Linked DNA regions of Homo sapiens: regions 1, 2 and 3 are each linked to region 4. Evidence: fine-mapped expression QTL. A gene starts in region 4. Each other region holds a variant in brackets. All regions are shown on one strand. Distances are from middle to middle. Region 1 overlaps HSPBAP1 (HSPB1 associated protein 1). Region 2 has its middle 14 kb from the start of LINC02035. Region 3 overlaps HSPBAP1 (HSPB1 associated protein 1). Region 4 holds the start of SLC49A4 (solute carrier family 49 member 4).

The links. PIP is the estimated chance that this variant, and not a neighbour inherited with it, causes the effect. A credible set is the group of variants that fine-mapping cannot tell apart.
Region 1: its variant is the best candidate, but not a certain one, in a credible set for the expression of SLC49A4 in whole blood (TOPMed, PIP 0.58).
Region 2: its variant is the best candidate, but not a certain one, in a credible set for the expression of SLC49A4 in prefrontal cortex (ROSMAP, PIP 0.52).
Region 3: its variant is the best candidate, but not a certain one, in a credible set for the expression of SLC49A4 in blood mononuclear cells (TOPMed, PIP 0.65).

Annotation. Positions count from the first base shown.
Region 1 is chr3:122,756,597-122,761,748 of GRCh38, forward strand. HSPBAP1 (HSPB1 associated protein 1) reads right to left here. Exons shown (of 8, transcript NM_024610.6): 4 at 2,628-2,764. Among named protein-coding and RNA genes, the nearest start is that of HSPBAP1, 35 kb to the right of the region's middle. The variant T/C (reference allele first, on the strand shown) is at 3,230.
Region 2 is chr3:122,898,430-122,903,581 of GRCh38, forward strand. No RefSeq gene overlaps it. Among named protein-coding and RNA genes, the nearest start is that of LINC02035, 14 kb to the left of the region's middle. The variant A/C (reference allele first, on the strand shown) is at 2,087.
Region 3 is chr3:122,765,417-122,770,568 of GRCh38, forward strand. It overlaps HSPBAP1 (HSPB1 associated protein 1), which reads right to left. Exons shown (of 8, transcript NM_024610.6): 3 at 3,285-3,466. Among named protein-coding and RNA genes, the nearest start is that of HSPBAP1, 26 kb to the right of the region's middle. The variant G/T (reference allele first, on the strand shown) is at 2,446.
Region 4 is chr3:122,792,116-122,797,267 of GRCh38, forward strand. It overlaps SLC49A4 (solute carrier family 49 member 4), which reads left to right and starts at 2,954. Exons shown (of 9, transcript NM_032839.3): 1 at 2,954-3,420. The coding sequence starts at 3,078. HSPBAP1 (HSPB1 associated protein 1) reads right to left here and starts at 1,716. Exons shown (of 8, transcript NM_024610.6): 1 at 1,502-1,716. The coding sequence starts at 1,565. RefSeq lists a silencer at 2,791-3,280.

The DNA of each region.
Region 1 (5,152 bases), 36 kb before region 4:
CTGAGGTGGGAGGATTGTTTGAGCCCAGGAGTTCGAGGAAGCAGTGAGCTATGATTGTGCCACTGCACTCCAGCCTGGGTGACAAAGCAAAACCTTGTATCTAAAAAAAAAAAAAAAAAAATTCATTTCGGAGCTATAAGGCAGCCTATCAATTTACACGGCCATCAGCTTAAAAACCATTGAGGTTCAAAAGCTGTTTGCCTAATCTTAAAGCTTTAACTTAATTTAAGCTTTAAGAGCTGCTCCATTCCACTGTATGATTAGTTTGAAAGCAGTTTTCAGTATTGATATGCTTCGAATGTTAGAGTTGGAAGGGCTCTGAAGAGATCATCAGTCTAATTTCATTTCCAAAGTAGTGGCAGAAAGACTCAGAGCTTGCCCAGTGTCACTCACTGGGGTAGTGGTGGATTCAGAGCTAGGTCACAGATCTCCTGGCTTCTCCAGATCCCAGTTCCTTCCCCTGCACCACAGCAATATTTCCCAAAGGAACAGCCATAATGATAACCATCCCATCCAATCTGCTTTGTTTGGGTTAAAAAATGTAAAATGCATGAATCCTTCTATTAGAAAAGGTATTCAATCATCATGTGATCTCCTGCTTTAAAAACTTCTCATGGTTCTGGATGCTGAAAGAACAGAGAATAACAGTGTCTGCCTGGAAGTCAAGACCCTGGGGACTCAACCTACCTGCCTTTCTGGTCTACTCCCTCTGTCTCCAATGCACAACATATACTGGACAACTCAAGGGGTCCTCTCTACACCCCATGCTTTCTCAGGGTCCCTCTGCCCTTCCCATCTGGGTCTTTTGAGCACTTATCCATCCTTCAAGGCCCACCACAAATGGCAGCTCCTCTGTGAAATCTTCCCTGATCTTTACAACAGGAACATGATCTCTTCTACTTTTTAGTCCCACAGCTCTGTGAAACCTTCCTCTAGAGCATGGGTATTCTGCCTTGTATCATGGATGTCTGTCGGCTTGCCTTGCACTCTGGCTGTAAACTCCCATCATAGAGAGGGTGTCTTACTCCCTCACCTCTGTACCTACTGTAACACATGGTCCCTGTACAGAAGGATACTCAATGGATATTTACTAAAGCTATTTTATTATTCCAGAGTTATATAAGGCCAGAAAATGTCTTATTACAAAGTTAAAATAAAGTGATATTAACTTTATATCATAGAGAGAATTCAGGTATTTTTTGATGTTTTTCCAACTTGAATTTCTTTGGCTTGTTTCCAATTCAGAACACATGGACAGCAGCTACTTAAAATGTTGTCTCTCTTACCAAGTTTAAGGTTTCAGCCTGTTAACTCCACAAGGATAGAGACCACACTCATCTGATTGACTCTTGCATCCACAGCGTGTAGCTATGTACCTGACACATTCTATGCCCTTTAATAAAGACGGAATGCATCAGAGAGTGGACTAACTTCTACCATTCTGTAATTCTCAGAGTTCTTCACATGTGAAATGTATCCACAGACATACTGACTATTTCTCCTGAATCTGCTCATAATCCTTTTCACATCTAATAGGTCTGAGAACTTGCACATGACCTTTTCTGTTTTACTCTCTGTGCTGCCCTGTAAATGTCCCACATGACCAGGAGAAAAGACTGGGGCATCATTAATTAGGGGAAAATAAGGCTGCACATACATCTGAGTACATCCTCCAAGTGGCACAAACACTTAGACTCTCATAGAACTCCAGAAACCAGGTATATCAAAAGCACTGCCTATCCCTCGTATCTTCTAGAGTCCACAGATAGATGGAGACAAAAACTGACCTAAGGTAACAATACACTGTATTGTGTCAAGTAGGCACAAACTAAAATTTAGAGTTGAAAGCGTCCAGTATTTTTCAAACCAGGATCGCTGGCATCCCTTGGAGAGGAGCTTGAGGGCAACAGTGAAGCCTCTTCCTTTCAACAAACTGCTCTGCTCTTATTTATTTAGATTTGAAGAAAGGGTGTTCCCATTTTTAAATAAAAGTTTGAAAACTACAAACTCTTATGTAAAAAAGAAAAGCTAAGCATAGGCTGGGCATAGTGGCTCACACCAGAACTTTGAGAGGCCAAGGCAGGAGTATGGTTTGAGGCCATACTTGGGCAACACAGAAAGACTCCATCTCTAAATAAAAAGTTTTTTAAATTAGCTGGGCATACTGGCACACACCTGTAGTCCTAGATACTTGAGAGGCTGCGGCAGGAGGATGGCTTGAGGTCCAGGAGCTATGATCATGCCATTGCACTCCAGCCTGGGCAACAGAGCAAGACTGTCTCAAATGTCTCTAATTTACCAAAAAAAAAAAAAAAAAAAAGACCAAGCAGAGAGCTGTCTAGCTGACCTGGGAGTGGAATCTCAGAGTTCTAGAATAAACTCTCTGAAGACAATCCTGATCATGACAAGGCACGCACCTGTAAACCACCATTTTAACTGTCCTCATTTCACAGAGGAGAAACCAAAACCAGAGGTTAAGAGGTCTGCCCTAATCATGAGGCAGGCTGACAGGATGGGGCTGGGACTACACCTTGGGGTATTGCCCTATTCTCTCTGCCACCCCTATTGCATGCATGCACATGTGCGTTCCACACACACACACACACACACACACACACACACATTACCTTCCTTGTACCTGGAATACCAAGTTACAACCATAGGAGTCCAGATGACAGGGTGTGTGGGCTCCCAAGGAGCCAATCCACAATGTACTTTCCTGTCCATTTCTTCCAGGAAACCCGAAGTCAGACCATTTCACATCCTGTTTTGAAATAAAGTTGCAATCCATCAAGAACTAACCAACTTCTCTGTATGGTAATGCTGCCCATTTTCACTTGCACATCTGTTATTTAGCAGTTGGAATATTCTATTATGGAAAATGCTACAGATGGAAGAGGTTAGGTTTCCAGGGCAGTTCAAGAAATCTTTTTAGCCAATAACATATTTGAATAACCACACTAATAGTAATCATTCAACAAATATTTACTGACTACTTACAACATGCCAGGCACTGTTCTGGAAGCTTGTAATGAATCAATGAACAAAAGAGACAAAATGCCTACTCGGATGAAGCTTACATTTCAGAGTTGGAAACAGACAATAAACAGACAGGATTATGCTGATATTTAGGGAAAGCGTGTTTTGGGCAGTTAGAACAGTGAATGCAGCGGAAATGGCATTATTTCAAATATCTCTGAGACACAACCGAAGAAGTCAGAAAGCCGTA[T/C]TTCCTCTAAGCAGTGCAGATATTTGTGTACATACGCAACTTACTAACTTTGTGTACTTCAATGACCACATAAATGAAGACTTCTCCTACATTAGTGGGGTTACTTAAAACTATCAATGCTGGAGCCTTAGCTCATACCTACTAGATCAGTCTTCAGATGAGGGTGTCAAAATACATCTTTTGAAATATACATCCATGGATGGCTTTCAATATACTCCCCAAAGTCATGAACTTCTTAAGTGCAATGATCTTTAGAACAGAGACAGCATAGTGCTCTGGACTTAAGACTCTCCATATGCCTGGTTCTGTGAGCAAATCCTGCCCAAGTCAACTACTGGGAAAAGCCTATACTTTTAGAAGCCGATGGCGCATTTGCAGCACAGAAAAATAGGGTCACACATAAACCCAAATCCATGTGATTAAACAGATTTATAAGCTAGAAAAGAAAAAAAACATACTAGTGAACCAGGCATGATGGCTCTGCCTTATTTTTATTTTAATCATGAGGTTTTCCTTTCAGTTTTAAAAAATAAAAGCAAAAAAAAAAACACCCCACTTCTATGTGCAGAACATCGTTCTCAATGCTGACACTCCTTTTATCAGTAACTACAGTCTAAATTTTCTATTTTTAGAGGGAAAACATTAACAGCTGTATTCAAAGAGAAAGGATTTTAAAGAGAAATTTAATGGATGGTTTTGAGGAAGACTAGAAAGAGCATTTTTTTTTTTCATTTTTGCTTTGAGTGATGAAAATGGCTGAATACGTGCACATAATTAATGTCTGTCATAGAAGGGGGAATTTTTGCAAGGTCAGCACCACTGTAAATGCACATGGCTCACATGTGGCAGTTCCAGTGGGTGGCAAAAATCCTGTTCTCTCTGCATGTAGCCTATAAGCTCCATACTGGGAGCTTACCCCTGTTTTCTCAATGCCTAATTTAGTACCTGGCTCAGGGTTACAGCTTGGAACACACTGGCTGCTTGGGAGGGAAAGAAGAATCTGTTGACTTATGATGGTTAAAATAGTTCAGGCCAATGACATTTTTGAGTACCTACCATATACGTGGTATGATGCTGGGTGCTGGGGATACAAAAATTAATATAACACAGGCCAACCCTTCAAGTCTAATAATGAGTGATAATCCCATAAACAGAGCCTTTCAATATGATGTAACAAGCGCTCTGACACAAGTATGCAGGGAATGCTTTAAGATCACAGCAGGAGGGCCCTGCACCCAGCCAGGGAGCTTAGGGGAGGCTTCCAATTAACCTGGTCCTTGTTGAACAATTTACCACACCTCAGTCTGAGGAATTTAACTAAAGGTAGCTGAAAGCCATTCAGTATAAAAAGGAAAAAAGAGAGACTTGCCTTAGCTAAGAAGAGATAGGTCATGTGATTCTTAATCTTATAGATACATCCCTTCAGGAATCTAATGAATACCAAAGCCCCTTCTCCTCAGAAAAAAGCACACACGAAACTTTATATATACTTTCAAAGAGGTGACAGACCAACCCCACATGAAAAACCCTGTTCTAGAGCCCTGCTTTGGAAAGAATCACTGAAGGTTTTTCTACAGGGTGAGGTTACTGTATGAGAAACTGAGGAGAGACTTCCCTGGCCTCCTGTCTAACAGTAATAATGACTTAAAAAGCAAAACTGTCAGCCAGGTGCAGTGGCTCATGCCTGTAATCCCAGCACTCTGGGAGGCTGAGGTGGGAGGACTGCCTGGGTCCAGGAGTTCAAGACCAGCGTGGGCAATGTTTGGTGAGGCTCTGTCTCTACAAAAAGGTTTTTTTTTTTTTTTTAACAAATTGGCTGGGCGTGGTGGCATGCACCTGTGGTCCCAGCTACTTGGGAGGCTGAGAAGGGAGGATCACTTGAGCTTGGGAGGTCAAGGCTTCAGGGAGCTATGTTTGCACCAC
Region 2 (5,152 bases), 110 kb after region 4:
AGTACTTCACAGAAACGAACAAGCAGGAACATGTGTGGTGCTGGCTGAGAGCTGGATTCACTCCTCTGAGTGGGGAGATAAGATGTCCGGGAACTGGATTTACCTCAGCACATAGACCGTTTATTTCTGGATGTGGCCCAGGAAAGCAAACACAAATGTGTCAAACTCCTCTTTTCTCTGAAAGAGAATTTAAAAGTAAAGATCATAGGCCAAGCCAATGGTAACATCTTTTGGGCAAAGAATCTCCTTTGTAGGGTATTTGGGTAGAGGGAGAAGTTGGTCCAGGAGAGTGAGTTCTGAGCCACACCCGTGGATGTCCATGAGATAGAGAGCTCCTACAGTTACAAGAATCATAGAGTCACTTCAGCCATCATAAGAAGTGATTCGACTGGATATGGGTTGGAGCCAAGAGGGGGCCAGCTACCCTTTCTCTCTCTCCCTCCCTGTCTCTCAATCTCAGCCAGTCCAGTCTTTCTCCCTCGCAGTCTCGGTGTTTCTGCTACATTCTTCTATTGCTACTAGCCTATCTTATCCTCATTCTTCAGTCCAGATCCCACAGACAGCCACTCTGACTGGCTTAGCTGATTTCCCTCTGGGCTTTTGGATAGGGTCCTTCAAGACTGCACACCGTGGCAGGCAGCCAATCTGTAGCCATCCCTGTGCAAAGACCAGCTCAACACTGCTTGTCTGTTGGGAGGAGGATGGGTGGGAGGAGCTGTTTCAGAAACCTGGGAGTAATAGACATGACAAAACCGTGACTGAGATGTCCATTTGCCTGTCATTTTCTAGGGTGGAGATGGAAGTCTGGTCTTCCCATGCCCACTTGTCTCAAGCCCCTCCCACACATCAAGTGACAGTAACAGCTTTTCTATCACCATTTAGGGATCATATGGACATTAAAATGAAGATGAAGAGAACACAGGAACTCTGTAAGTCTAAAAAGATGCCCTAAACAGCCAGAAGGGCCCCACTCCTTGCCCGGATCACAAGTGCTGGTAACGGAGGGTTGGGGGAACCAGGGAGGAATTCCAGGAACCCTGGGCCTTGTCCCTACTCCTGAGATAAGGAAAGGGGTGGAAGAAGGGAGGGCCGTAGGATCCCAGACAGCTTCAGTGTCGAGGGCTTTGGGATTCCCTCTGCCCAAAATGCCCAGGTATAGATCCTGAAAGCCCCAACATCACTGACTTCTTTGAGGTCAGACCCTGAAAACCTTTATGCACAGTCAACCAGTCACACTTAGGCTGGAATCTGCGTAGCCAATTGGTATTTTAAAGAAAAGGAACCCAGGAAACATAAGACATCAAAAGAGGCAAGATTTGATGGCAAAAAAACAAACAAAAAAAAAGTTGTAAGCCGAGCACGGTGGCTCATGCTTGTAATCCCAGCACTCTGGGAGGCTGAGGCAGGTGGATCACCTGAGGTCAGGAGTTTGAGACCAGCCTGGCCAACGTGGTGAAACCCCATCTCTACTAAAAACACAAGAAGTTAGCTGGGTGTCGTGGCGGGCTTTGGTGATCCCAGCTACTTGGGAGGCTGAGCCAGGAGAATTCCTTGAACCAGGGAGGCGGTGGTTGCAGTGAGCCAAGATTGCACCACTGCACTCCAGCCTGTGGGACAGAGTGAGACTCTGTCTGAAAAAACAAAACAACAACAAAAAACCCAAACAACAAAACAAAACCAGGTGTAGTGTGGCTCTAAAGGAACATCTGACCAGGTTCCTGGGGAACCAGGGCCATGGGAGGAAGAAGGGACTCTTCTCCCATGAGAAGGGCCTGGAGATGCAGGGACTGTCAAGTCACTTTGGCCAACTTTTTTGCTCCCCTAGAATGAACTCTGCACTAAAAGTGGAGAATCACTTCTATGAGAGAAAGACATAAAAAGAAAAGATATAAGGTAATGTTACAGTAAGTTGGGCAAATCTATCAAAATTTAAAAACATGTATACTCTTTGAGTAATTCTATTTTTTCAGAATTCATTCTGCCATTATAGCTATATATATATAAGGATAGTATTCACCTGTATTCGCCTGTAATCCCAGCACTCTGGGAGGCCGAGGAGGGTGGATCACTTGAATCCAGGAGTTTG[A/C]GACCAACCTGGGCAACATAGTGAAACTTCATCTCCACAAAAAATACAAAAAACTAGCTGGGCGTGATGACATGCACCTGTAGTCCCAGCTACTCAGGAGGCTGAGGTGGGAGGATCGCTTGAGCCTGGAAGGCAGAGGCAGAGGTTGCAGTGAGCCATGATTGCACCACTGCACTCCAGCCTGGGTGACAGAATGAGACCTTGTCTTATAAAAAAAAAAAAAAAGAAAGAAAAAAAAGTATTTGCAACATTGTAACAAAAGATTGAAAATATCCTAAAAGTTCATCATTAGGGGTTTGGTTAAATAAATGCTGGTGGCAATTGTTGGGGAAAAGACAGACATGGAACACTCTAGGTGACAGATTGTTAAGTGGGAAAGCTGGTGCAGAATAGTGTGTACAGGTGAGCCCATATGTTGCCCAGAACACACACTTGGGCAAATGCTAAAATCAATATTGGGTTAAAGTTGGGGTCAAAACCAAATATTACCATCTCAGAATGAAACTCCTGGGATGCAAGAATTAACCTGAAATTTCATCCCAAAGAATGTAATTATTATTATAGTTTTGCTAATGGTCAAATTCTAAGTTTGACCTTATGGTGCAAGAACAGTAATCACTCAGCATGATCAGCTGCAAAATGGCTCTGTGATCACGTCACTGCAGTTCTTGTTGTTGTTGTTTTTGAGACAGAGCTTTGCTCTTGTCACCCAGGCTGGAGTGCAATGGCGAGATCTCAACTCACTGCAACCTCCACCTCCCAGGTTCAAGCAATTCTCCTGCCTCAGCCACCCAAGTAGCTGGGATTACAGGCACCCACCACCATGCCCAGCTGATATTTTGTATTTTTAGTAGAGATGGGGTTTCACCATGTTGGCTGGGCTAGTCTCGAACTCCTGATCTCAGGTGATACACCTGCCTCAGCCTCCCAAAGTGCTGGGATTACAAGCATGAGCCACAGCACCTGGCCTTCACTGCAGTTTTGTCATAAGAAATAGACGGTCACTTTCCACTGAGAATGGGAGAGAAGCCAGGTATTTTTCGGATATTACATTTTCCTGTACTTTTTTTCTTTTCTTCATTCTCTTTATATCCCTTGTTATGTCTGAATCAAAGGTGATTTGTCATGGATATTGTACATGGTTTTGCAATTTTTTTCTGCTTATGGAATGTTGAGATAGAAAAGCTAACATTCTTTTTTTAAAAATTCATTTTCATAAGATGTGAATTCCCAAATAGAATTTATTCCTGAAAGACTCATAACCTAAATGGAATTAAATATCAAAAATCAAACATAATTGTTAAAGGTGATTTTATTTACCATAATGCATGTGAGATATGCACCAAACTAGACAGATACTAGAGTTATGACTTAATCAAATATCTATTATTCTGACTGGTATTATTGAAAATTGTTTAACATTCATTGGCTTACAGAGATGATAATGTTCTTCCTAAAGTTATCTCACTAACATTCTCTCTCAATATTCTTTTTAATTCTCAGTCTTTTTCTCAATTTATTTGCTATTTAAAGGTGCTTGTTTTTGAACATAAAATTAGCAGCTTTCACCATCATTATGTGAAACATTAATTATTATGGCTTTTTAATCTTATAATAATAAATATATGTAGTTCAAATGACTGAGAATTTTAACATATGAAGCATAAAAGAGACTTTCACTTCAAGACTCATTTGATATTTATAGTGAGTATCATCTATTAATAAATCTAAATGGTATGCCTCATGCATATTACTAATGTTGATATGCTGATTAGATATAATGATAGACCGGGTGCAGTGGCTCACACCTGTAATCCTAGCACTCTGGGAGCCAAAGTGGGAAGATGGTGTGAACCCAAGAGTTTGACACCAGCCTGGGCAACATAGTGGGACTCCATCTCTACAAAAATTTTTAAAAATTAGCCAGGCATGGTGGCATGCGCCTGTAGTCTCAGCTACTTGGGTGGCTGAGGTAGGAAGATTGCCTGAGCCCTGGAGGCTGAGGCTGCAATGAGTCATGATCACACCACTGCACTCCAGCCTGGGCAACAGAGCAAAACCCAGTCTCAAAAAAAAAAAAAAGATATGGTGATAACCTGTTAACGATGACTGTAGATTAAGCACAAACTCTCAGGGATATTATAAATAATACTGAGGTAGGCATTCAGCTACTGAAACTTCCAAAAGCTGAGGTTGAAGGCCAATTCAAAGATTTCTACTGAATATCGAGGCCAAAGCTGACTTTTGGTGCATTTTATGTACACACATGATAAACATACATATATGTGTCTGTGTCCCTGATCTACCTCTAGGTGCCTCATGGAATGAGATCTTGGGGCCTAGGAATCAAGAATGGGAGATTCACTTTTTATTGGATATCCTTTTGTACTGTGAGCTCTTTGGAGCCTACACCCCTAGGAATCTCGGAAGGGAGATTTATCAGGGGTGGTGGGGGAAGTGGACCCTCTGTTTTTGAGAGTGCTCAGTGCTGGGCAGAGCTGATTAGGAATGTCCAAGTACGGTGGGGGTCCTGTATCCTACCAGCCCTGGAAACTGGGGTGCAAACCTAGGGAAACATCTCCCTTTTAGGGTGATTGGAGGGTGATTGGTGGAAGGACCTTATGGGTAGGGATAAATTTTCCCACAAACTCCAGAGTTCACATTTCAGACTCTAAAGCCTGAGCCTCCCCCAGTCAGCACAGCTACAGAATTAGAGGTGCAGCCCCCAAGGACTAAGTGAGTGCCCTGTTGGCAGCTCAGGATGAGGAGAGAGGCTTTTCCAGAGCAGCGTGTTTGGGGCTGGCCTGCAGGGTTCTCAGTGAGTCGTCAGGGTGACCTAGCAGTGCAGCTGGGGGCCATGGAGTGGTCTGAGTGGCAGGCCAGGCTGGCTCAGAACAGCTGGGCCCTGGGAGGAGCCTGGGGCCCCAGTGAGCACAGGCCTGGTGGACCTCCAGTTAAAAGACTCCTTCCTAGGGAGCTCCTGAAATGCTGGACCCAGGTGACTGACACATCGTTTGGTAGAAATGGCGGGATGTCTCTCCTCTTCTGGAAGATCCCCTTTTGGAA
Region 3 (5,152 bases), 27 kb before region 4:
CTAAAAATCCAAAATTTAGCCAGGTGTGGTGGTGCACGCCTGTAATCCCAGCTACTCAGGAGGCTGAGGCAGGAGAATTGCTTGAACCTAGGAGGCAGAGGTTGCAGTGAGCTGAGATCATGTGACTGCACTCCAGCCTGGGTGACAGAGTCAGACTCTGTCTCAAAAAAAAAAAAAAGAGAAAAAGAAAAAAAAAAAGAAATACATGAGCCTGAAAGCTTCCTAACACTATTTTTCTGATAAGAACAGTGGTATTAACAAATGTGACTTTTTGAATAATGAAATGTATCAAGTATACTGAAAATGTGTCAACATTTGGAAGATCTACTAATTCAGTAAGTCAATATTTTCCAAATGGTCCATGAATAACATTACATAAGATCCATTCTGTGCAAGACAGACCAATGGATTTTATAAGAGTAGAGAGTTCATTCATTATAGGTTCAGATTTTTATACTGCAACTAATGAACCTTTAAGAAACTACCCCTCATCAAGTTTGGTGTGTGTGGTATAAAAAAATCCACAATTATCTGAAAAGGCTGTTATTAATAAATACTCCTCCCTTTTTCAGTTTCATATGTGTGTGAGGCAAAATTTTCTTCATATACTTTAAACAAACCAACAAATTGCAACAGCTTGAATGGAGAAGCAGAGAATCCAGCTGTCTTCTTACAGCCAGACATCAAGAAGACATGCCAAAATGTACAACAATCTATCCCTCTAATGACATTAAACATTTTTTGAATATAGTTATTTTCTCAAAAATATTATTATGTTAACGTATAGTGGGTTGTGTCATTTTAAATAAATCAATAAACATTTTTAAAATGTACCCATTTTAATGTTTAACTACCCACCATTTTATGACAGATATAAGAAAGCTTGAAACAGCAAGTAATAAGACTTGGTGGCTGAATGAATTAAACCAACACAGGTACCTGTGATGTAAGAAGACTTGGTGCCCAGAAAATTTTGAGACAAAAGATGATATAATCTTAATGGACTTGGTTATTCATAGCAGAATTAATTGCCATAATATGAGCTGACAGAAAACTCATTCAACTCAAAATATCAGATTTTATAAGGGCTCAGTCAGAATTCCAGCACATTGCCAAAAGGCTGCCCTTTATATCCGCACTTAATGGACAGGTCACATACTGCACAGTACTGCCTTGCCTGGGGTGGGACAGAACTACTAATGGGGTCAGATCAAACACTCATCCAAGGCAGAGTGAGCCTACACTCAGGACAGAGAGTCCCAACAGGACCGAATGTATGCACACGCTCTGTAGGCACAGCAGTAATTAAAGCTCTGTAGTAGTTAAAGCTCTGAAGGCAGACTATTTGGGTTACCCCTTCCTTGTTGTATAATCTTAGAAAAGGTTTACTTAACCTCTTTGGGTCTCATTTTTCTTAAAATGGGGACAATTATTAAATCATAGAGTTACTTTGAGGATTATAAGTGTAAAACATTAGAAAAATTCCCCCAAAAAGTAAGTACATGATCAATGTTACTATTAAGCAATATTTTACCTGAAATATGGAGTAAAGTACTAGTCTAATTTACGGAATGGTGGGGCGTGGGTATGAGAAACATAACAAAACACTTTTAAAGTTAACTATGAAACCTGTAAGTTCCATAATTAAAGAACCATAAAGTGATCACAATTAAGGTTGTAAGAAAAAACATCTACCTTAAAATTATCATTTAAAAATGAGTAAATAGTAGATTTGGTATTGACTTTGAATTCAGAGTCATTTACTGAATGTTTTTAAAACCTATGCATTTCTTTCATGGGTATGAGAATGAAAATACATTCTCAACTAACAACTATGACAGGACGGGCACAGTGGCTCACGCCTGTAATCCCAGCACTTTGGGCGGCCGAGGCTGGTGGATCACTTAAAGTCGGGAATTTGAGACCACCCTGGCCAACATGGTAAAACCCTGTCTCTACAAAACAATACAAAAATTAGCTGGGCATGGCGGCAGTCACCTGTAATCCCAGCTACTGGGGTCAGGGGGTGGGTGATGGCTGTGGCAGGAGAATTGCTTGAACCTGGGAGGAGGCAGAGGTTGCAGGGAGTCGTAATTGCGCCACTGCATTCCAGCCTGGGTGACAGAGTGAGACTCCATCTCAAAACAACAATGACAACAACAACAAAAAAAACAACTATGGGGCAAGGTGACACATTTTTCCTTTTTTATAAAATAAAAAAGCAAAATTAAGCCAGGCGCAGTGGCACATTCCTATACTCCCAGCAACTCGGGAGACTGAGATGGGAGGATCTATTATAATAACTATGTTAACATCAGCATTTACATCTTGACTCAACATAAAAAAGAAAAATATACACTGAATGGAAAATTACTGAGGAGCCAAAGAACTATCAGCCTATATGAAAGCCAAGTCCAGAGAGTGGGTGGTGGCAGAGAGGAGAAG[G/T]GGTGAACAGCCTGCAGGGATGGTGAAATACTTCTCTCCACAAAGAAGGGGCAGGAAGAAGGACTCTGGAGCCTTGGCCTGAGTCAGGGCAAGGCAGAGTCCTCCAAACAGCCTCCAGGATGGCTCCCATTCCTGCCCCACACCTAAGACACATGGCAACAAGAGCAGGGAGTTTGCAAAATTATCTCACAAAATAAACTGCCAGTTTAAGGTAGAAAACACTTAAAAGAGGATATGGTAGTCTGGAAACTCTGTTGTCAGTTATGTCAACATACGGCAAAGAACTTCCATAATTTTACTTCTGCAAGTCACTCCCACACTTCTACAGGGCTTCCACTACCAAATACTGGGAGCCAAGTGTTCTCTGCCTCAGGCCATGAACTGCCAGAGAAAACAGCTGTCCAAAACCCCTAGAGCAGGTAGAAATTGCAGCAGCAGCCTGGTCACAGCCCAAGGAATGCTCCTTCACAGAATCAGCTTTATGCTTTCATCTGCCTCACTGACAGGACAAGAACTTATATGGAGGTCAGGAGGCAATGAAGTTTTATACACAATCTATGCTTCTAACATACTCCAAACCGACTCAAGCACTGTTTAAAAGCAAAGGAGGGTGTGTAGGAAGTTTGGGAGTAGGAAAACAAGGAAGCCTGCTCATCTGTGTGAGCCAAATGGTACACTTCTCTTCAGCAAATCTTTTGGTTTGAGTGGGTGAAATATCCAAGATTCATGGCGATTACTTATGAGAGAAAAAGGCAGAGAAGGTGCCAGGGAGATTCTAATTTGTGTTCTTTTCTCAAAAACAAATTCCTACCAAGATTAGAAGGAAGGTTCTGACTTACCTGGAAAAGATCTGTCTTGTCTTCAAATAGACTGACAAAATATTTATAGTCAGCATAAGCCCAGAACTTGGAATGGTCATAATCTCTAAATGGTCCAGAAATACTAGACTGGTCACAGTTCCAGGTCAGAAACTCTTCGAGTGTAGCTTCTACGTAATTACATGTAGTTTCAAACTGAGGAACTGCAATGTAAGAGAATGCAACCTTAAATGTATAATGAACACATTTCCTAATTATTGTTTTTTTTTTAAAATAAAGATAATTTCAACCAAAAAATTAACTTTGAAGACTAATTAAAAATTCGTGTTGAGCCAGGTGTGGTGGTGCATGCCTGTAATCCTAGTTTCTCTGGAGGTTGAGGCAGGAAGATGGCTTGAGCCCAGGAATTTGAGACCAGTCTGTGCAACAGAGCAAAACCCCATCTCCAAAAAAAAATTAATTAAAAAATTTAAAAATTAATTTGTACTTGTTATATAATGAGTGCCATTTACAAAATTCACAATACTCAGGATTAAACATAAAAGTATAAAGCAGTTTTAACCTTAAGATTAAAGACTACCCTATGAGTAGATTTAATAATCCAAACTTGAGGATTTAGTAAATAAAAACTTGAGGCACCATACAGTTAAATGCAAAATTTTATGCTGCTGACACCTGGAAAAGGCAAAGACCACTAGAGATGAGGGTTGATCAGGAAAGCTTCAATAAAAGATGTATTATCTGTCCACAGTGGCTTGTTATTATGGGTATGACTCCAATGAGTCAAGATTGGAGTCAGTGGATTGACACAAAAACTATTCTAAAAGAATGATGAAATTAATTTTATTTTTGCAACTTAAATGAACAGAGGAAGTTAATATTTAAGAAATCTGATTATGACTTCCTTTACAAAACATGAAATCCTTTCAGGATGTGATGTAGATCAGTTAGCACAGTGCTTGACACAGCAGATTTCAATAAATGTTCGCCACTATTTTTTTATTTTTTGTTTTTGTTTTGAGACAGGGTCTTGCTCATCATACAGGCTGGAGTGCAGTGGTGCAATCTCGGCTCACTGCAACTTCTGCCTCCCGAGTTCAAGCAATCCTCGCGTCTCAGCCTCTCAAGTAGCTAGGACTAGAGGCATGTGCCACCACGTCTGGCTAATTTTTGTATTTTTTAGTAGAGATGGGGTTTGGCCATGTTGGCCAGGCTGATCTTGAACTCCTGCCCTCAAGTGATCTGCCCACCTGGGCCTCAAAGTGCTGGGATTACAGGTGTGGGCCACCGTGCCCAGTCAATGTTAGGCACTATTATTAGTACTTCTTATCCATTCATATATTTACTTGGAACCCTTTAAAAGTTAGCTGAATCAGTAGCAGGAAGAGAAGAATATTCACATTCTTCTTTCAACAGCTTTTATCTTTTCTTACGTTTCTGCCTGTAACTGCTTAGAATTATCCAATAATCTTTTTCCTTTACCTTCTTTTTCCTAAGCCACAGAATGGCAGAGAGGTAATAGAGGCAGGGTGTATGTCAACGAATCATCCTAATTCATCCACTTTAACTTGTCACCTCACTTTGAGAAGCAGAAGAACTTAACTAGGGCACATTTATCTAAAAGATTAAAATGTACATATTCAAGAACTATTTAAATTTTAACAATTTTTGTAAAGCACTTAGTGCCTGGCACATAGTAAACAATCAATATACATAAACTCTTAACATACCAACATTGGCCAGGCGTAGTGGAACATGCCTATAATCCCAGCACTTTGGGAGGCCGAGGTGGGAGGACTACTTGAGCCCAGGAGTTTGAGATCATCCTGGGCAATACGGTGAAACCCTGTCTCTACAAAAAATACAAAAAAATTAGCCAGATGTGGTAG
Region 4 (5,152 bases):
GAATTTGTCATTGGAGAACGTTAGCAGGCTCACTAGAGAAACAGAGGATCAGAGGGATCTCAAGCCCATACTGACTGAATATTCAAGAGTTTGGCCATTTTCACTTTATACGGTCATCAGTTTGTGCAGGACTTTTTCCAGCAAAGTTCAGGCCCACGGGTGCAGGTACAAAGAGGGCAAAAGGTTGACTTCATCCAGAGTAAGAGTTTTGTCAGAAAAAAGTGCAGGAAGGGACAAGAGAATTTTTCAAAGGAACGACATACATTCTGGATAAGGGGGTGCAGTGGATAGAAAATGGAAAGATCAATGCAATGGAGGTATAGATGAAGGTCAAGAATTGTCTCCCTGGTAGAAAGTGGTCAGATAGTAGGAGGCTATAATTTGTTTCTTCTGCTTGGAATGGGCATCTCCCCCTTCAGCAAACTGTTTGACCCCTAAATACATCCATCCTTTTCTGCTCCCTGACTTCCTGAACCCCAGCACCACTCCCTGAGTTTGTCACCATCTCATCCAATCAGAAAGGCCCACCTCAGCGGATCACAAGGTCAAGAGAGCGAGACCATCCTGGCCAACATGGTGAAACCCCGTCTCTACTAAAAATACAAAAATTAGCTGGGCGTGGTGGCACGCTTGTAGTCCCAGCTGCTTGGGACGCTGAGGCAGAAGAATTGCTTGAACCTGGGAGGTGGAGGTTGCAGTGAGCCAAAATCGCGCCACTGCACTCCAGCCTGGTGACAGAGCGAGACTCCGTCTCAAAAAAAGAAAAAAAAAAAAAGAGAGAAAAGAAAAAGAAAGGCCGACCTCAAACTATTCGCTCCTTGAAGCATTTATGTTCTCCCCACTGAGATCCCTCCTCCTAACAACCCTCACAGAGTGTACTACTGGTAGAATAGTTCAGGTGACCACATAGTAAGTCATTCTTTTTCCTTTCTAGGCTCCTTTGGAAAAGGTATTGTTATAAATATTCAAAAGTCTCTGGATCCTGCGACAGTATTCAGAACACAGCCCTGCACGGTGCAATCATTCAATAAATAATAACAGGGATCTCAGGCTCATGGGCCTCCAAACCTCATCCCCACTTGCTAAACCAGGGTTCACTGAAATAGAATAAAAGCGCATAATCCCTGTTCACAAAAGTCTCAGATAACTTCCATTAATCTCAAAGGTTGCCTTCAATTTCACAAATTTAATTTTAATCCCCTCTAAACGTTCAAAACACCTCTATTTAGCTAATGATGGGCAAATATAAAACAAAACAAAACAAAAATAACACCCCATGCGTGAAACAGCACTCGTAGGCTACCCTACGACGATCAAAAATCTGGATGCCACAATTCGAGAAATGCCACGCTCACTAGAAAATATAGATTTTTCTTCATAGTCTAATGCAAGGCCAGAGAGACCTGGGTTGGGGCTAAGGCAAACGGCCCCACGAGGGGTGCCACGAGAGTCAACTGGCATTGGGTTTGTACTCAGGGTCGGACCTCAGCCTGGCACCTACCTTCCTCCCCTCCAGCCCCAGCCGCAACGATCACAGGAGTGGTCGCCTCGGAGCCTGCTGCCATGGCTACCGCAAGGCGGGTTCTGCCGGAACCCAAGGCGGAGCGGAGCTGGGGTGGGGTCAGAGTAGGGGCCAAACTCCGAGACCCGAAGCTGCACCACAGGAAGGAGCCCCGGCGACTCCCGCCCGGCTCCTACGGAAACGCCGGCTCTCACGTGGAGGTCACGTGACGGATGCTGGGCGGGACCACGCAGCTTTGTTTTGATACCCCGGGTGTGGAAATACAAACACGTGGTCTGAGTTGTGGCGCTTTTTACCTAACCCGGACCTTAGCGTTCTTTATTGTAGTCTTAGCTTCGTTTCTGTTTCTCCTTTTCTAGTCAGATCCTTCCTTTCCACCTCGGCTTTTCTCCACCCTAAAGGATTGGAGTTTTAGGGGAAGGTTTGCCGCTTAGTGGGGCTCCGGCGGTGGGATGGGTCTCTGCCGTGAGCTTTCGCGAGCCGCTCTTGGCAGCCTGGAATGCGAGGCTAGCTCACGCTTCTCTTACACCTCTCTTGCCCTTCTGGTGGTAACCTGACTCCTTCTGATTTTAGTGGCTGCCGGGAAATACGAACCTCGGGCAAAGAATCCTGTGATTGCGTTCCCTGTGACTCATTTCCCGATCCAGACAAGCCAAATTGCTTGACTTTAGGTTTTCAAGGACACTAATCCACAGCTGTCAGGCTTCTGAATTTGTATACCAAAATAAACAAACAGCTGTGTGAAGAGATCAACAACCACCTTTCTTCTCGTTTACCCTGTGGTCAAATCATAATCACTGGAGATGGATCTTTGGGGCAAAAATCTTCCAACTTTACTGGACATACCTTTATTGCTCGCCTATTGGCAGGCGAAATGGGTAAAGTTTACATATATATGAATGAAATTGGCTAGTTTGGAATCTCCTCTTTGGATATGTAAGACAAAAAAGTAACAAAAATAGGTAGTACTTATTGCACGTAAGAAATGATTTTTATGAGATAATCCCCTGGGACCAACTACGCTTAAACTTTATCCTTCGCCTATAATTTCTGAAGTTACTAACTCAACAAAAATGAGAATAAGCCCAAAATAGAAGCAAGCATCAGGTTAACTGACGTCACTTAACAGGTCACTGAGTTGTTTATTAGGCACAAGATTTAACTTGGACACTTCCTCCAAACACCCCAGGGTTCCTTGCCCAACCTCCTCGAATACAGCCTCTCTGGGAGTTTCCCTCTCCCCGACTCAGCCGCGCTGGTCCCTGCCTTTTCAGCGCTACCTGCCCTCCGTCTGGGACCTGGCTCCTTTCCTCTCGCCGGTGTTTCCTCGCCACCCGCGGAGGGGAGGGCGGACCCCAGCCTCCTTGCCGCCTGCCCCGCCTCCCCGCCTCCCCGCCGGCCCGGCTCGGGCCGCGCAGGCGCACCAGGCGCGGTCCGGAGGCCGAGGGCGACCACAGCAGCCTCCGCCTCCTGCTGCTCAGGACTATTCTGCGCTGGGCTAGTCGGCGGTGACCCGGACTGCGCCCGGCAGTGGCTTCGCGGGCGACGCGTCGCCATGGGCTCTCGCTGGAGCAGCGAAGAGGAGAGGCAGCCGCTGCTGGGGCCCGGGCTCGGGCCTGGGCTGGGGGCCTCCTGGAGAAGCCGGGAGGCGGCGGCGGCGGCGCTGCCCGCGGCGGTCCCGGGTCCCGGGCGGGTATACGGGCGCCGCTGGCTGGTGCTGCTGCTCTTCTCGCTGCTGGCGTTCGTTCAGGGCCTGGTCTGGAACACCTGGGGTCCCATCCAGAACTCGGCGCGCCAGGCCTACGGCTTCTCCAGCTGGGACATCGCGCTGCTCGTGCTGTGGGGGCCCATCGGCTTCCTGCCCTGCTTCGCGTTCATGTGGCTCCTGGACAAGAGAGGTGAGGGGTCGCGGAGCGCCAGCCCGCGCTGTCTCTCCTCCGGGAGCAGGCGCCTGCCCGCGCTCCAGGCCTGCCAGCCGCCTCCCTTGGCCCCGGCATAGGGGTTGTGTGAGGTGATAGAGTGTTGCTAGCATTCCATTTCTGACTTAGGAACCCTCCGTCCCCAAAGCGACAAATATGGAAAGGCAACCTTGCAAATATTTATGTTTTTTATCAAGGCCCTTTATGCAACACCAGGGATTTAAGCGATCTCTAAACGTTCAAGTTTTTACACATTGTGAACATCAGAGCATCCCCGTGCACGTGCGGTGTATGTGTTTTACACCTGACAAAAATGACTGATGCTTTGACTTCAAAGGGATATGGGGATGTTGAGGATGAAAGGTCGGAAAATAGATTGACGGTGCCCATATGTAAGGAAATAATGAGTTCGTTTTGTGTAATAGATGACTCCAGCCCAGGAAGAGCTATTGGGAAACTCAGATCTGACACTTTGGTTTCTGGAAGGTGGTGCTCGGCAGCTTTAAAATGTGTGTATGTGACTAGATGGCTTTCTCAGTTGAGATTTGTGACTTTCAATTAAAGCTTGCAGATGAGTGAAGATGCTTGCTTAGAATGGTACCCTGGACATCTCACTTTACCACTTGCCAGTGTGATTCTCTGAGAAGAAAAAGCCATAGGGCTGAGAATCAAGGCATACTTACCACATAAGTATGGATAAATGATTAGTAGTGACAGTCTACCCTCAAGAGGCTGTTGTGCAAGATTTTATATTTATTAATTGAATAATGCCTGGGAGCTACTTTGTACAGTTTCTGTTCAACCTTTTATAAGTTTTGTTGCAATGAGTTCTTTAGTCAGATTTGGAAGGTTGTCTTAGTCCACTGGAGCTGCTATAACAAAATACCATAAACTGGGTAGTTCATAAACACAGAAATTTATTTCTCACAGTTCTGGAGGCTGGGAAGTCCAAGATGAAGGCTCAGGCAGAATCGGTGTCGGGTGAGGGCCTGCTTCCTACACAGTGGTCTCTTCACTATAACATAAGATGGAAGAAGGGGTTAGGGAATCCCTCTGAGGTCTGTTTTATACGGGCAGTAATCCTATTCACATGGGTTCCACCCTCATAACCTAATCACCTTCCAAAGGCTGCACCTTCTTATTCCATCATTTTGAGGGTTAAGATTTCAAAATGTGAATTTGAGGCCTGGCGCAGTGGCTCAAGTAATCCCAGCACGTTGGGAGGCTGGGGTGGGAGGATTGCTTGAGCTCAGGAGGTCGAAGCTGGAGTGAGCTGTGATGGCACCACTGCACTCTGCCCTGGTCAACAGGGCAAGACTCGTCTCAGAAAAATTAATACATAAACAAAATATGAATTTGAGGGGAACACATTCAGACCTCAGCAAAAGTCAAGTGTAGGTAGGTATAGAATTGCAATTGTCTGGCATGTAGTTAGCACTCAAAATTAGTTGGTTATTAAGAGAATAGAATAGCAGGGTGATGTTAGTAGTTATACTTCCTTCTCTCCTCCTTCACTGGAATTCCTTCATTGGAATCCATGTGAAAAAGACTAAGGAATAGTTGATTGTGAATTCCTTAATGATCAACAATATAATGTAGCTGCTAAAAAAGAAAGGACAGTTTAGGCATAGAAACATAGTGTCCAAAACAAGAAGCAAAATAGTTTGATAGGCTCTACATTAGTGTTTAGTTCTGAGCTTGATTCTGAGAA